4 linked regions of the Homo sapiens genome follow. The protein of the gene in region 1 purifies or fractionates together with the protein of each later gene. This does not show direct contact. Each region holds a gene or a part of one and is shown in the gene's direction. Other genes may lie near its edges.

The links. Proteins that work in one complex are often made in the same cells at the same time.
Region 2: the proteins of P2RY10 (region 1) and OPA1 purify together in Homo sapiens (affinity purification with mass spectrometry; one large-scale study listed by BioGRID and IntAct). This does not show direct contact.
Region 3: the proteins of P2RY10 (region 1) and TUBGCP2 purify together in Homo sapiens (affinity purification with mass spectrometry; one large-scale study listed by BioGRID and IntAct). This does not show direct contact.
Region 4: the proteins of P2RY10 (region 1) and POTEF purify together in Homo sapiens (affinity purification with mass spectrometry; one large-scale study listed by BioGRID and IntAct). This does not show direct contact.

What each region holds. Positions count from the first base shown.
Region 1 is NC_000023.11:78,951,891-78,955,390, forward strand, and holds part of P2RY10 (putative P2Y purinoceptor 10), read left to right. Parts: intron 1-302; 5' UTR 303-445; intron 446-3,500. UniProt on the Homo sapiens protein: Putative receptor for purines coupled to G-proteins.
Region 2 is NC_000003.12:193,599,708-193,603,207, forward strand, and holds part of OPA1 (dynamin-like GTPase OPA1, mitochondrial), read left to right. Parts: intron 1-3,500. UniProt on the Homo sapiens protein: Dynamin-related GTPase that is essential for normal mitochondrial morphology by mediating fusion of the mitochondrial inner membranes, regulating cristae morphology and maintaining respiratory chain function.
Region 3 is NC_000010.11:133,284,873-133,288,372, reverse strand, and holds part of TUBGCP2 (gamma-tubulin complex component 2), read left to right. Parts: intron 1-63; coding exon 64-244; intron 245-2,744; coding exon 2,745-2,917; intron 2,918-3,159; coding exon 3,160-3,288; intron 3,289-3,500. UniProt on the Homo sapiens protein: Component of the gamma-tubulin ring complex (gTuRC) which mediates microtubule nucleation.
Region 4 is NC_000002.12:130,073,035-130,077,222, reverse strand, and holds the end of POTEF (POTE ankyrin domain family member F), read left to right. Parts: intron 1-21; coding exon 22-142; intron 143-1,650; coding exon 1,651-2,979; 3' UTR 2,980-3,688; downstream 3,689-4,188.

The sequences.
Region 1 (3,500 bases):
GCTATTCTTCCTGATGCTCTCTCTCACCCAACAGCTCCCAACAGACTCCAATGTTTCTTGTTTCTCACCATGTGTCCATGTGTTCCCATCATTCAGCTCCCACTTATAAGTGAGAACATGTGGTGTTTGGTTTTCCATTCCTGCATTAGATTGCTAAGGATAATGGCTTCCAACTCCATCCATGTCCCTGCAAAGGAAATGATCTCATTCTTTTTATGGCTGTATAGTATTTAGAGACACACTTTGTAAGTGAATCCTGTTATTTCAGAGATGGTGGCTGATTTTTCTGCTTTTCTTATTAGGTTAAAACTCTATGCTGGTCATTCCCTTCAGGATTTGGCACTCACCAACATACCCTTCTTTCAAGTGAAAAGGCATCTCTTTTAATGGTCCTGACCTTTGGAATAGGAAGCATGTACCCTGGACAGAGCACTTCAAACTAGAGGTACCAAGAGTAATTACTTCTGTAAGGCTGGCATTGGAGGCACTGGGAATTCTATTCTCACCTCTTTCTGGGTAATTCAAAGCCACAGAAGTACTGACTGAAGTGAGGTTGTGGGGACATGTATGCCACCTTGAAGTGCATTAAAGAATGGATATAAAGTGAGGAAAAGAAAAAAACTGGTGTAAACAACTATGGAGAGAAGGGCAGGAAGGCAACAAAGAGCTAGAATAAGGTGCGTAGACAAGAAAATTACTTTGGGAGTTGGAGAGACTTGATGAAAAAGCTCTAGCTGAGAGTGTAGAAAACCATGATTTTCTAGGAGTGAAAGGGAACAATCAATGAAAGAGAATCCTGAGGGAGGTTAGAAGAGTGTGATAATTCATCTTGAGCAGCAGGAAGGACAGCTGTGTTGGGAAGTAAGAAGAGTGCTGCTATAAATAAAATTATGCGTGTTAGAAAAGGACAATAGATGAAGTTGATTTCTTCTCACCTAATAATCTCAATTTACTCTTTGAGCTGAGGGCTAAAACAAATAGTCTTCCGAGAAAAGTGGTGGATGGGGAGCAGGAGAGAGAGGAAGAAGCTTTAGCAGAATAGAAAAGGGGCTGATTAGCCACCATGGGAATAGGAGAAGATACTAATCAGGTTCATGCAAAAAGAGGGTAGAGGAAAATAATTTTAGACTGGAGATCATTAATTTCCATTTGTGCCATTTCAAATACACACTAGTATTTCAACAGGATAATTGAGCCATTTGGATAGTAAGAAAGAAAACCTGTTGTGGACTTAACCTGCGATTAGGGCCTTGCCAGGCTGGTGTAGCAGGAGAATGGAGAACAAAGAAGTTGTGTATTCTTGTGTAAGAGTGGATAATTTGGCCAACTATTTAATCTGGGTTAGACACAGGAGGAAATAAGATGAGGGAGGATGCTATGTGAGACTAGGAGAAATGGAAGCATTTAGATATTGAAGGTTTCTGGAAATGTATGGTGCAAGTTAGTATAGTGCAATTTGTAGTGAAGCTCAGTCATTATGTTAGAGAAAGAAAACCATTTGAAGAGTTAGGAATTGATGAGGGTTGGCAGATAGTACAAAATTGAAAAATACTGGAATAAGAAATAGGTTAATGGATTCAGATTATCAGCAGAAGTGAATGCTGTTAGTTGCTGCATATGAAGTTGCTTTGGAAAAGTGCAAAACTGCGATACCTTTTTTATATCATTTCATGTTTTATAAATGAAATCATCTTTGACTCCTCAAGCAGTCTTCAAAATTGCTCAATTCCATATCTGACTTTTACTTTAAATTCTAATCTAATAGGGTGACCAACTATTCCCTTTGCTTTGGACTGTCACAGGTTTAGCACTGAAAATACTATGTCCCAAAAAACCCTCAGTCACAGGCAAACCTCAACTGTTGGTCTTCCTACATACTCCCAAAGTGATTTGGATTCCCTGTGTCCCATTTCTTCAATTCATCTTCCACATGGTTGCCAGCGTGACCTTTCTATTTTTTATGTATTCATTTTTAAAGTATTATTTATTTTTGAGATGGGGTCTTGCTCTATCACCCAGGCTGGAGTGTAGTGGTGCAATCTCAACTCACTGCAACATCTGTCTCCCCGGCTCAAGCGATCCTCCCACCTCAGCCTCCTGAGTGGCTGGGACCACATAGGCGTGCCACCGCACCCAGCTAATTTTTTTGTTTTATATTTTTTTGTAGAGATGAGGTTTCACCATGTTACCGAGGCTGGTCTTAAACTCTTGAGCTCAAGCGATCCACCCACCTGGGCATCCCAATGTGCTGGGTTTACAGGTGTGAGCCACCACACCTGGCCAGCAGCCTGATCTTTCTAAAACACAAGTATGATGATATCGCATCTCTTCACAGAATCCTTTGATGATTCATCATGAAGTGCATTAAAAATATTTCATTAAAAATCTTTCATGACCCGGTAACTTCTACCTTTATAGTCTCTTTTCCCTTTCACTACCTTCCTTCAATCATACCTCCCATTTCACCCTCCCCACCATGTTATCCTATTCACCAGGTGGGATAGAATTATTATTTTTCCTTTAGATATATCATTCATTTTTATACTTTGGAAACCTTGGATGTTATTTATCCATCCCTGGAAACCTTTCCGATCTTTTCTTCTCCAAAATCCTGCCCATTCCCAAAACTGCTTATTAAAAAATTGACTTCCAATCTTTCCATTCTATGCAGGCTTTATTTCTGCTTCCACAGAAATGTCTTTGTTACCTCTTTCATGAAATGTTTCTGAAATCCGTTATGGTTAGTTACTTATGGCTATCACATGTGACTGTAAACTTATTGAAGGCAACAACCATGGATTATTTTTCTCTGGAATTTCCCATTCCACTCCATCATCCTTTGCAATTAGCATATAGGACACCCACATAGCAGAATGTCTACTTGGATGAAATCACAAACTGTTAAGATTCAGATGAATTATACTAATAATAACCAGTAAAAACGGTCATGCTTATGGAGAATTTTTGAAGAGATCAACTTGACCTCACCTTTGAAAGGTCACTAGGATTTAAAGAGAACAATCGATAATTCAGACAAAGTGAGGTTAACTTTAAGTTTATCTCTTCCCCAGCCACCCTCTTTATTTTTCTCTCCATCAGCGGCAGAAAACGGGGACGGGGTGGAGAGAAAAATAAAGATGGTGATGAGGTAAGAGATAAAGTTAAAGTTTACCTCACATTTCCTAAAGTATCCATTGTTCTATTTAAATCCTATATGTTATCTTTAGCAGCTAAAATAGTACTGGTATCTCTCCTAATTAATTCACAGGAATGATGCTGTGCCAACACTGAGGGATTCTCATCACCTGTGCCATTCACTTCAATTGTTGCTATTCACTGATTGTGATGTTAGAGATTTTTAAATGTTACCCCTATGGGGACCATAGGCTCTTGGCCCTCTCAAGGTTGCTACAAAATCACTGGCATGAGGCAGATTGATTAACATGAGATAAGGAATTACAATTTATTTAAAGTATATACACATGAGCCTTCAGAATGAA
Region 2 (3,500 bases), on another chromosome or scaffold:
ACCTTGGGCAAAACATAGAATTAAAAGAAAACTTCAGACAAGTTAAATTTGATGGAGTTTAATTGAGCAAAGAAAAAAAATGATCCACAAATTGGGCAGTCTCCAGAATCACCGCAGATTCAGAGAGACTCCAGGGGTGCCTCGTGGTCAGAACAAATTTATAGACAGAAAAGGTAAAGTGACCTACAGGAATCAGAATTGAGACATAGAAACAGTGAGATTGGTTACAGCTCGGCGTTTGCCTTATTTGAACGCAGTTTGAACACTCAGCAGTCTATGAGTGGTTGAAGTATGGCCGCTGGGATTGGCCAACACTCAGCTGTTATTACAGATGCATACTACTAAGTTAGGTTTTCGATTTTGTCTGCCTATTTGAGCTAGGTTACAGTTCGTCCACAAGGACTCAAATATAAAAGTACGGAGTCCTCTTCGGGCCATATTTAGTTCGCTTTAACAATTCCCCCTTTTGGTCAGCCCCTCAATTTAGAGAGATTGACCAAAACTTTAGGCGTTGACACCACTCTCTGTCACCATCATAAAGACTTATTTGGTCTCAGTGTGGAACTCACAAGTCGTCTTTAGTTTCAGTATGGAGTCTCACACATCTTCTTTGGTGTTAATAGGGAATTCACAAGTTGCAACTTTGTACCAGCTAAATGATTCTTTATGTTCTTGCTGATCCAGTTGGAGTAAGACCATTCAACTGTCAATGTACAGCTGCATACAAAACATTTAAGACTTGAGAGTATACAGTGCACCAAGGGGACTATTATTATGACTGTTAAGAGGACACCGTCAAAATGCTAAGGTGTACTCCTTAATAAAAGTTCTTATGAAATGAACTGAACCAAATCAGCCAAGTTAAGGTTCAGACAATATAAGCAGTTCAGCAGTATTGGGGTCTGATTGGTCAGAGTCTTCAGTTGGAGTATGATAGTGATTAAGGATCATAGTTCGCTGTAAAGTAGCTTGACTTAAAGAGGTGCTCGTTTTCATTGTTACCTTGTTAATACAAGTCATAATAACTTGAAAACCTGCTAGAAGAGATATAAAGATTAGAAACCCTTGGAAAACCCAAGCTTGCCATTCACCACTTAGGATGCCTGCAAACCAACTGTTAGTTGCTCCTATAAACATATCGTGGGTTCCTTTCTCTTGAGAGATTTCTTTATTGTACTTGGTGGCAGTGTCTAAGGAAACAGCAGTATCAGCCACCTTTTAAATTAAGCTTTTTGTAGTAACAGAATCAGGGGAGGGATTAGTACAAAATTCAGTTTTGTTTAACACCAAACATAGGCCTCCAGCTTGAGCAAAAAGAAGATCTAAGACTGCATGATCTTCCATTAAGTGTTTTCGTTGAATATGTATGTTGTCATGTGCCTTTCTGAGAGTAGCTTCTACCCATCTGAAACCCTGGGAGGTCTGATTGGCTACCAAATCCAAGAATTTTCCCAATATACAAATTAGTTTTAAATTCCGTACAAATGGTACTTCACTACCACCAAGAGTGAGCCCCCAGGAACCCCAGTGGAATCTTTCCCCGGTAGAAACTAGCTTATCCTCGTCTATTTCGAGGCTAGTGCTAATTTCAGTTATTGATCATTTTGGCCTCCAAGTATAAGGGCTATCATGAGAATTTTCAGGGGAAGCAATTCGAAAGGCAGGAGCAGGCCAGGCCAGATAACAAGAACCAAACCAACCAAGGAGGCAGAACAGAATATGCAGATTCTCCACAGACCCAATAGAGACCCTCAGGGGTTGGAAAAGGGGGCCACCTAGTTGTATTTGAGCAGGGATCATTCAGGTTTGTTCGACCATGAATCTGTAGCTCCTGAATAACATCCAGTGGGAAATTTACTTTTCTATGGCCCCTTTGTAGTGTGTTGTAAGGGTGTATAACCACATCTAGTAAAAAGAGACCCTACTGGATATACAAGCAATCACTTGTACTAACATAAGTAATTCCCAAATCTTGAGTATGTGATGCCTGCAAGCACAATATACGTTTTGTAGGCATCATTTGGATTTGTTTTTTATATTTGGTGTGATCGACTTTATCAGTTGAAAAAGAGTGTTGTTTTTAGTGAGTGTAGGAAAGCAAGTACTAGTGATGTTTAGAGTATCAAGAATAGCTTTCCATTCTTCCCTTGGGGTTTCAGGGTGACTCATTGGGAAACGTGGAGGGGCACTGGCACCCTTGGAATCATTTCCTGATTTTTTGGCATTAGCCCACAAACCCAACAGTTACCCTGGTTTTGTGCTAGAGCATAAGCTTGAGCTGAAGCCATCCACTGATTATGGTCCCATGGATTTTCATGTAAGGAAAAGGAAAGGATTAGGGAAAAAAATAAGGAAAACAGAAAAACACATAAGGCTTTCATGGTGGTAGAGAAGTCTTGATCTGTGATCTAGGGAAAGCTGTCTGTAACCAGGATGCTGTCTGCTTCTGGGAAGAGATTTCCCTGGTCAGCTTTACCTTAAAGTCTCCAACGGGTATATAGTACCAGGAGTCTGAGGGGGCCCTTTTGAATTGTGAGATGTGGACCCATGGTTCAAAGCCCTGAAGCTTCTCTGCACTGTGGGTGGTAAGAAGGACTTGGTATGGTCCCATCCAACGAGGTTCAAGAGTGATCTTCTTCTGATGTCATTTCCGGAAGGCCCAGTCTCCAAATTCCAGACCATGGAGGGTTTGATTGTCCTCAGTTGGTGGATCTTGAAATGCTTCCTTTACCTGGTGGAAGTATACTTTGGCGTAATACATTAAAGCCTTGCAGTATTTAGTCATATCAGAGTTTAAGAGAGCAGGAGAAGCATGAGATGCTATTATTAGGGACATGGGCCTCCCAGTGACTATTTCATAAGGGGTCAATTTATGTTTTCCAACAGGATTGAATCTGATTGCCATTAAAACCAAAAGGTAGTACCTTTGGCCAAGGCAACTCAATTGATTCAGTTAACTTGGACAGTTTCAGTTTTCAAATGCCATTTGTTCTTTCAAGCTTTCCTGAAGACTGAGGGTAATAAGGACAATGGTAATGCAACTGTGTCAGTAACACCTTATTTAACTGCTTTATAACTTGCTCAGTAAAATGAGTTCCTCTATCACTGGAGACTTTTAGAGGGATCCCCCATAAAGGAAAAACATTTTCTAATAATTTCTTAGCTATGGTCACAGCATCAGCTTTCCTACATGGGAAGGCCTTTATCCAACCAGAAAACATGCAAACTATTACAAGAACATACTGATACCCCATTGAGGGTGGTAACTGAATGAAGTCCATCTGTAAATGTTCAAATGGTCCATCAGGTGGTGGAAATATACTGCCTCTAGTTTTTCTGGGATTATGAGTTTGACAAGTCAAACATTGATTATAAGCCATTTTAGTAATGTCAGAATAGTCACCCCACCAGTATTTTTTCATAATTTGGATCACTTTGTCTGTTCCATGATGAGCTGTGGAGAGCTTTCAATAATGGAAGCTTCAAAGATTCAGGAAGGA
Region 3 (3,500 bases), on another chromosome or scaffold:
TGCTCCCTGGCTGTGGCGGGCACCTGCGGGTGGGCACCTGCTCACGCCTGCTCCCTGGCGCAGGTCCATCAAGCGCTACTTCCTCATGGACCAGGGCGACTTCTTCGTGCACTTCATGGACCTCGCGGAGGAGGAGCTCCGGAAGCCGGTGGAGGACATCACGCCCCCTCGCCTGGAAGCGCTCCTGGAGCTGGCGCTGCGCATGAGCACGGCCAACACTGACCCCTTCAAGGACGACCTCAAGGTGGGTGGGGGTGCCGGGGGCTGTCCCCTGTGGCAGAGGCCTCGGAGGGGCTGGGAGGAGAGCACAGCAGAGGCCAGCCCTGTCCCCCACTCCCCGTCCCGGTGAGGCGACCGCAGGGTCTGTTTCCTTCACTTGGCTACCGGGGCCGGCTTGCCGGGATCGGGGGTCTTTGTGCCTGTGCTCTGGAGGGGCGCGGGTCTCGGGTTTTCCTGCAGTGCCCTCGTCCGGGCCTGGCTTTCAGGTCATGCTGGCCTTGTGGAATTGTTTTCACGTGTCCCTCCATCTGTCTTTTGAAAGGGTTTCAGGTCTTTTGAAAGGGTTTCAGGAGTGGTGTTAATTCTTTTTGTTTTTGCCTTTTTGTTGTCGTTGTTTTTTGTTTTTTTTTTTGAGACGGAGTTTTGCTCTTGTCACCCAGGCTGGAGTGCAGTGGCATGATCTCAGCTCACTGCAGCCTCCACCTCCTGGGTTCAAGTGATGCTCTACCTCAGCCTCCCGAGTAGCTGGGATTACAGGTGCGCGCCACCACGCCCAGCTAATTTTTGTATTTTTAGTAGAGATGGGGTTTCACCATGTTTCCCAGGCTGGTCTTGAACTCTTGACCTCAGGTGATCCACCCACCTTGGCCTCCCAAAGTGCTGGGATTACAGGCATGAGCCACCGTGCCCAGCCGTTTTTTAAAATATATATATGTTTTATCTGTTTTTTACTATTTTTAATAGAGACGGGGGTCTGTGTTGCCCAGGCTGGTTGAACCCCTGGGCTCAAGCGATCCTTCACCTGCGCCTCCCCAGGAGGGTGTTGATTCTTTGGCTGTTTGGCAGGGTTTGCCTGGGAGCTCTTGGGCCCTGGGTTTGTCTTTGTTGGAGACTTTTGAGGGGGACTTGGCCCCTTGCTGGCCACAGGTCTGCTCAGTCCCTTTCCTCTTGGTCGGCTGTCTGTCTCGCATCTTGTCTGGTGCACAGTTCATGGGTTTCTAGTATCTGCTTTTTATTTCTGTAAGATTAGTAGTTATATCCCTTCTTTTTCTGATTTTAGTAATTTGAATCTTCTTTCGTCTTAGCTGATGTAGCTAGAAATTTGTCGATTTCATTATCTTTTCAAAGAACCAACTCTTGGGTTTGTTGACTGTATTTTTCTGTTTTCTCTCTTCTGTCATCTTTGTTACTCCTGTCTGCTGCTTAGGGGTTCAGTGTGGTCTTCTTTTTTCTAGTTTCTTAATTTGAAAAGTTAGTTTACAGCTGTAAACATCCCTCCGAGTGCAGCCTTCGCTGATCCCCTAGCGTCATAATTTCTGTTTGTCTGGAGGTGTTTCTGATTCCCTCTGATTTCTTGTTGGAGCCGTGGGTGGTTTATGTTTAACTTCCACATGTTTGTGAAGTTTCTGGTTTTCCTTCTGTTGCTTGTTTCTAACTTTATCTCCTTGTTAGAGAACAGACTTTTTGTGATTTCAGTTTTGTGAAATGTATTGATTTGTGTAGTGGCCCCACATCCATCCTGGAGAGTGTTCCGTGCGCGCGGGAGGAGGATGTGCCCTCGGTTCCGTGCGCGCGGGAGGAGGACGCGCCCTCGGTGCTGTTGGGGTGGTGTTCTGCAGGTGGGTTGAGGCCGTGTCTTTCCTCACTGATCGTCTGTCCGGCGGTTCTCTCCGTGGTTAGAAGTAGGGCACCGAGTCTCCCTGTCACTGAAGAACTGCTTTTCTCCTTGTCATTCTGTCTATTCTTGATTCAGATATTTTGGGGTCTCTTGTTAGGAGCAGGAATATTTTCGTAGGAAAAATTCCTGGTAGTGAAATTGTTGGGTCACAATACATGGCCCTTGTATGACTAGGCTGACCTTGCTGGAGTTGATGGAGTCCAGTCTCAGGACGCTGCTGTCTGCACACCTGCGAAAGCTCCCACCTTGGCTATTTGATGGACAAGTGATGTCAGGGGCTCATTTCTGCGTTTGTGATGGTCACGATTTCGTCTGTCCGCTGCTTGTTTCTTCTTGCTTTATCCCCTGCCCTTCATTTCCTGTCCTGTCGTTGTGCGATGGTTTTGTAGGAACTCTGTTGCGGGTGGTTGGAACTTAGCAAATACTCGAGTGATTAACGTGAGGACAGTATTACTTGCTTATAATAACTATTATGTCCCTCGTCAAATATGCTTCATTTTTCAACCTGGGCCTGGTGCTTATCATGGTACAAAGGTTTTCGTCCTAAGGAATCACGTTTCTTTCACCGTCCTTAGCGGTTTTTCCCTTATACCACCCACAGCAGCAGTGGGTATTTACAAAGTAATTCATCTGAATTTTTGTTGTTTTGTTCTGATGGGAAGTGGTTCAGTTTTGAATTTGATTTATCAGTAGATGTTTGGGTTTTTGAAAAGCCTCTGATATTTAGAATCGGAATGTAGGGAACCTTACGTCAGCGCTGGGTCTGTGAGCGAGGATGGCGATCGGGATGCGACTTCGGGTCTTTTCCTTAAAACTGGATGCTTTGTTTCATTTCCTTCCCTCCAAGATCGACCTGATGCCCCATGACCTCATCACTCAGCTCTTGCGCGTCCTGGCCATCGAGACCAAGCAGGAGAAGGCGATGGCGCACGCCGACCCCACGGAGCTGGCGCTGAGCGGCCTGGAGGCCTTCTCTTTCGACTACATCGTCAAGTGGCCCCTTTCGCTCATCATCAACAGGTGCGGGTCGGCTGCTCGGGCACCTGCCAGATCTTCACTCAGGTTTGGCAGAAGCGAGAACTGTGCCACGCGGTGGCCACCTCGTCCCACAGAGGACCCAAGGCGGCTCTCCCCGGCCTTCAGTGTCCGAGAGATTCACGGGCTGTCCGGGGGCCACGGTGCGGACTGTGGAGTACAGACGCCGTGTCCACGACGCCGCCGGTCACGGAGGCCCACCTGAGGTGCCGCCACGTCTCTTGCAGGAAAGCCCTCACTCGCTACCAGATGCTCTTCAGGCACATGTTCTACTGCAAGCACGTGGAGCGGCAGCTCTGCAGCGTCTGGATCAGCAACAAAACCGCCAAGCAGCACTCGCTGCACTCCGCCCAGTGGTGCGTTCTTCCTCTGCCCCCGCATGCCCTCCTGAAGCAGCGCTCGCTGCACTCTGCCCAGTGGTGCAGCGCCCCCCTTGTGCCCTCCTGGTAGACAGCTTTCTAGGCTTCTGGAAGTGTCATCTGGAAGCGCACGTTGGTGGCTTTAGATCCATAATGCTTCATTGCTTCATTTTCCTGTCTTGGGGCTGCACGGCGCTGCCGTCCACCCC
Region 4 (4,188 bases), on another chromosome or scaffold:
GAAAATTAAAATTTCTTCTAGTGACGAACAAAATGATACTCAGAAGCAATTTTGTGAAGAACAGAACACTGGAATATTACACGATGAGATTCTGATTCATGAAGAAAAGCAGATAGAAGTGGTTGAAAAAATGAATTCTGAGGTATTTTCTTTAGTTATTTTCAAATGTTTTTATATGTGTGTATATTTTAAAGAACTGTATTTTGGAAATATAAAGGATTTTTAAGTCATATATATGTGTGTATATATTCTATATATCCTTTGTCATATATCTATATACGTACGTATAGGATAAAGCCATGTTCTTAATTCACCTTCATTTGCCTGCAACAGTTGAGTAGTGACCTGCACAATGGCCTCAATCCAAAGGAGAAGTATTTGATATTTTTCATAAGAATTGATGATCTTTCCACATCAGAAATAAGTTTTGCTACTGAAAACAGATTTTCTCGTTTTTGGACATTAGTTTTTTAAAAAATGTTAATAGAGAAGTCAATTGATTATTTTTACTGATAAGAAAGTAGGAAATGTATAGCTGGGTCAGAGGCCACATTGTGGATACCATTATCCTTACTTTTGCAGAGAGGAACAGTTTGCTCCAAGTAGTTTCTCATTTCAATGTAAAGAGGTTTGAAAAGAATGACATGCCATGATACACATTTAGTAATAATTTATTGATAAGTATTTTCTTTCTGGAGAAATAGTTCAGTATATTTCCCCTATTTCACCATTACTACTGTTTCAAACATTATAAAGAGGAAATAAAAGTTACCGCAATGGCAAATAATCTCATGATTTCTAAGAAAATCTCTATAAGTTGTATCTTATTTACCATTCATATTTTGAAACAAAAGGTTTCTTTTGTATTTATATATTTACACCACAGAAGTAAGTGTGGTTTTGTGGAGGATCACTAGAAGTAGCATCAGCAGACCTGGGGAAAATCCTGCATCTGTGTATATTTTTTGACCTCTCCTTTTAAGAATCGCGATCTTAAATGAGTTCAGTATTATATGTAGAAGAGCAATGCCTAGATACAGATGTGTACAGTGTAGAAGGGTACAGTGCTTATTTGACAGTTATAAATAAATGTAATTCTTATAACTGAGTATAGAAATATTAGAAATGTAGAATATCGGTAAAACGTTCTTAAGTAAAAGAAACTTAAAGAACTTTGAGAAATTGCTTCTGTCCAAATATATGCATAGCTAAGGCTCTTAGGATGGTGTGGTTGATAGGTTAGATATCAGAGTGTAAACCTAATCTTAAAAATGTAGTCAAATTATTAATCTTATATTTTATGCCTCTGGGTTTTTTGTAACTCAGAAAAAAGGCTTTTTTTAATTCTGGGATTCTTAAAAATCCTCTAGTGATTTATTTTTCATCGTCTTTAAATAAATATTTAAACTTTTAGGAATTTAGGAGCAGATTCCTAAAAGTTTAAATATTTATTTAAAGACGATGAAAAATAAATCACTGGAGGAATTTACACTCTTATTAGGTTTGAAGTTTTGTCCAATTTTTTTCCAGTTAAATATCCACTATGGGGATTCTTTCATTATACAAATACATGTTATTTTTGAATTTCAGAAGAAATCATGATATGTCAATCTATTGAGTGCTAACTAAAAGTTCTCTTTGTTTACTTAGCTTTCTCTTAGTTGTAAGAAAGAAAAAGACATCTTGCATGAAAATAGTACGTTGCGGGAAGAAATTGCCATGCTAAGACTGGAGCTAGACACAATGAAACATCAGAGCCAGCTAAGAGAAAAGAAATATTTGGAGGATATTGAAAGTGTGAAAAAAAGGAATGATAATCTTTTAAAGGCTCTACAATTGAATGAGCTCACCATGGATGATGATACCGCTGTGCTCGTCATTGACAACGGCTCTGGCATGTGCAAGGCCGGCTTTGCGGGCGACGATGCCCCCCGGGCTGTCTTCCCTTCCATCGTGGGGCGCCCCAGGCAGCAGGGCATGATGGGGGGCATGCATCAGAAAGAGTCCTATGTGGGCAAGGAGGCCCAGAGCAAAAGAGGCATCCTGACCCTGAAGTACCCCATGGAACACGGCATCATCACCAACTGGGATGACATGGAGAAGATCTGGCACCACACCTTCTACAACGAGCTGCGTGTGGCTCCCGAGGAGCACCCCGTCCTGCTGACCGAGGCCACCCTGAACCCTAAGGCCAACCGCGAGAAGATGACCCAGATCATGTTTGAGACCTTCAACACCCCAGCCATGTACGTGGCCATCCAGGCTGTGCTGTCCCTGTACACCTCTGGCCGTACTACTGGCATCGTGATGGACTCTGGTGACGGGGTCACCCACACTGTGCCCATCTATGAGGGGAATGCCCTCCCCCATGCCACCCTGCGCCTAGACCTGGCTGGGCGGGAACTGCCTGACTACCTCATGAAGATCCTCACCGAGCATGGCTATAGGTTCACCACCATGGCCGAGCGGGAAATCGTGCGTGACATCAAAGAGAAGCTGTGCTATGTTGCCCTGGACTTCGAGCAGGAGATGGCCACGGTGGCCTCCAGCTCCTCCCTAGAGAAGAGCTACGAGCTGCCCGATGGCCAGGTCATCACCATCGGCAACGAGCGGTTCCGCTGCCCCGAGGCGCTCTTCCAGCCTTGCTTCCTGGGCATGGAATCCTGTGGCATCCATGAAACTACCTTCAACTCCATCATGAAGTCTGATGTGGACATCCGCAAAGACCTGTACACCAACACAGTGCTGTCTGGCGGCACCACCATGTACCCTGGCATGGCCCACAGAATGCAGAAGGAGATCGCTGCCCTGGCGCCTAGCATGATGAAGATCAGGATCATTGCTCCTCCCAAGCGCAAGTACTCCGTGTGGGTCGGTGGCTCCATCCTGGCCTCGCTGTCCACCTTCCAGCAGATGTGGATCAGCAAGCAGGAGTATGATGAGTCAGGCCCCTCCATTGTCCACCGCAAATGCTTGTAGGTGGACTCTGACTTAGTTGCGTTACACCCTTTCTTGACAAAACCAAACTTCTCAGAAAACAACATGAGATTGGCATGGCTTTATTTGTTTTCTTGTTTCATTTTTTGTTTTGTTTTTTATTGGCTTGACTCAGGATTTAAAAACCGGAATGGTGAAGGTGACAGCAGTCGGTTGGAGGAAGCTTCCTCCAAAGTTCTACAATGTGGCCAAGGACTTTGATTGTACCTTGTTCTTCTTTTCAATAGTCATTCCAAATATTGTGAGACGCATTGTTTCAGGAAGCCCCTTGCCCTGCTAAAAGCCACCCCACTTCTCTCTAAGGAGAATGGCCCAGTCCTCTCCCTAGTTCACACAGGGGAGGTGATAGCATTGCTTTTGTGCAAATTACATAATGCAAAATTTTTTGAATCTTCGCCTTAATACTTTTTAATTTTGTTTTATTTTGAATGATCAGCCTTCGTGGCCCCCCTCTTTTGTACCCCAACTTGGGGTGTATGAAGGCTTTTGGTCTCCCTGAGAGTGGCTGGAGGCAGCCAGGGCTTACCTGTACTCTGACTTGAGGAGAGTTGGATAAAAGTGCACACCTTAAAACAAATTGAGGAAGCACAGTATTTCAGTACAGTGGACAGCTTAGCATGTTGACAACTGAGAATAAAATGCTCAGTTCTGAACTGGACAATGTAAGACACAACGAGGAAACACTGGAAATGGAAATTCAATTACGTCATTGTAGACTGGCTGCTGCTCTACATGATTGTGACCAAAGTCAGATAGCTGAAAGAGACTTCTTTCCAGAGAACAAGACATGAACAGGTTTATTTACAGAAGACAATGAATTCTCATTTATCTCACCTAAAAGAGAACAGATTCTTTCTCAACAAGTCTAATGAAGACAGTAAAATCAACAGGCTAAAAATTAAGCTCCACGAAACAAGATAAAACTCTGAGAGAAAAGACGGGGCAGGCCGCCATCTTTCCCGTTCAGGCAACGTAGTCATTCCAGCCTGCGGGCTTTGGAGAGTACAAACCGACGAGGGACAGAAGAGATCCCACAGCACAGCATAGCTGCTTTACCAAATCATGGCCAGACTGCTTCTGTAAGCAGGCCCCTGATCCTGTTCCACCTCACTGGACAGGACCTCCCAACTGGGGCCTCCAGCTACCCCCACCAGCATTCCTTGGCCAATGGAAATGTGAAATGTTCCTGGG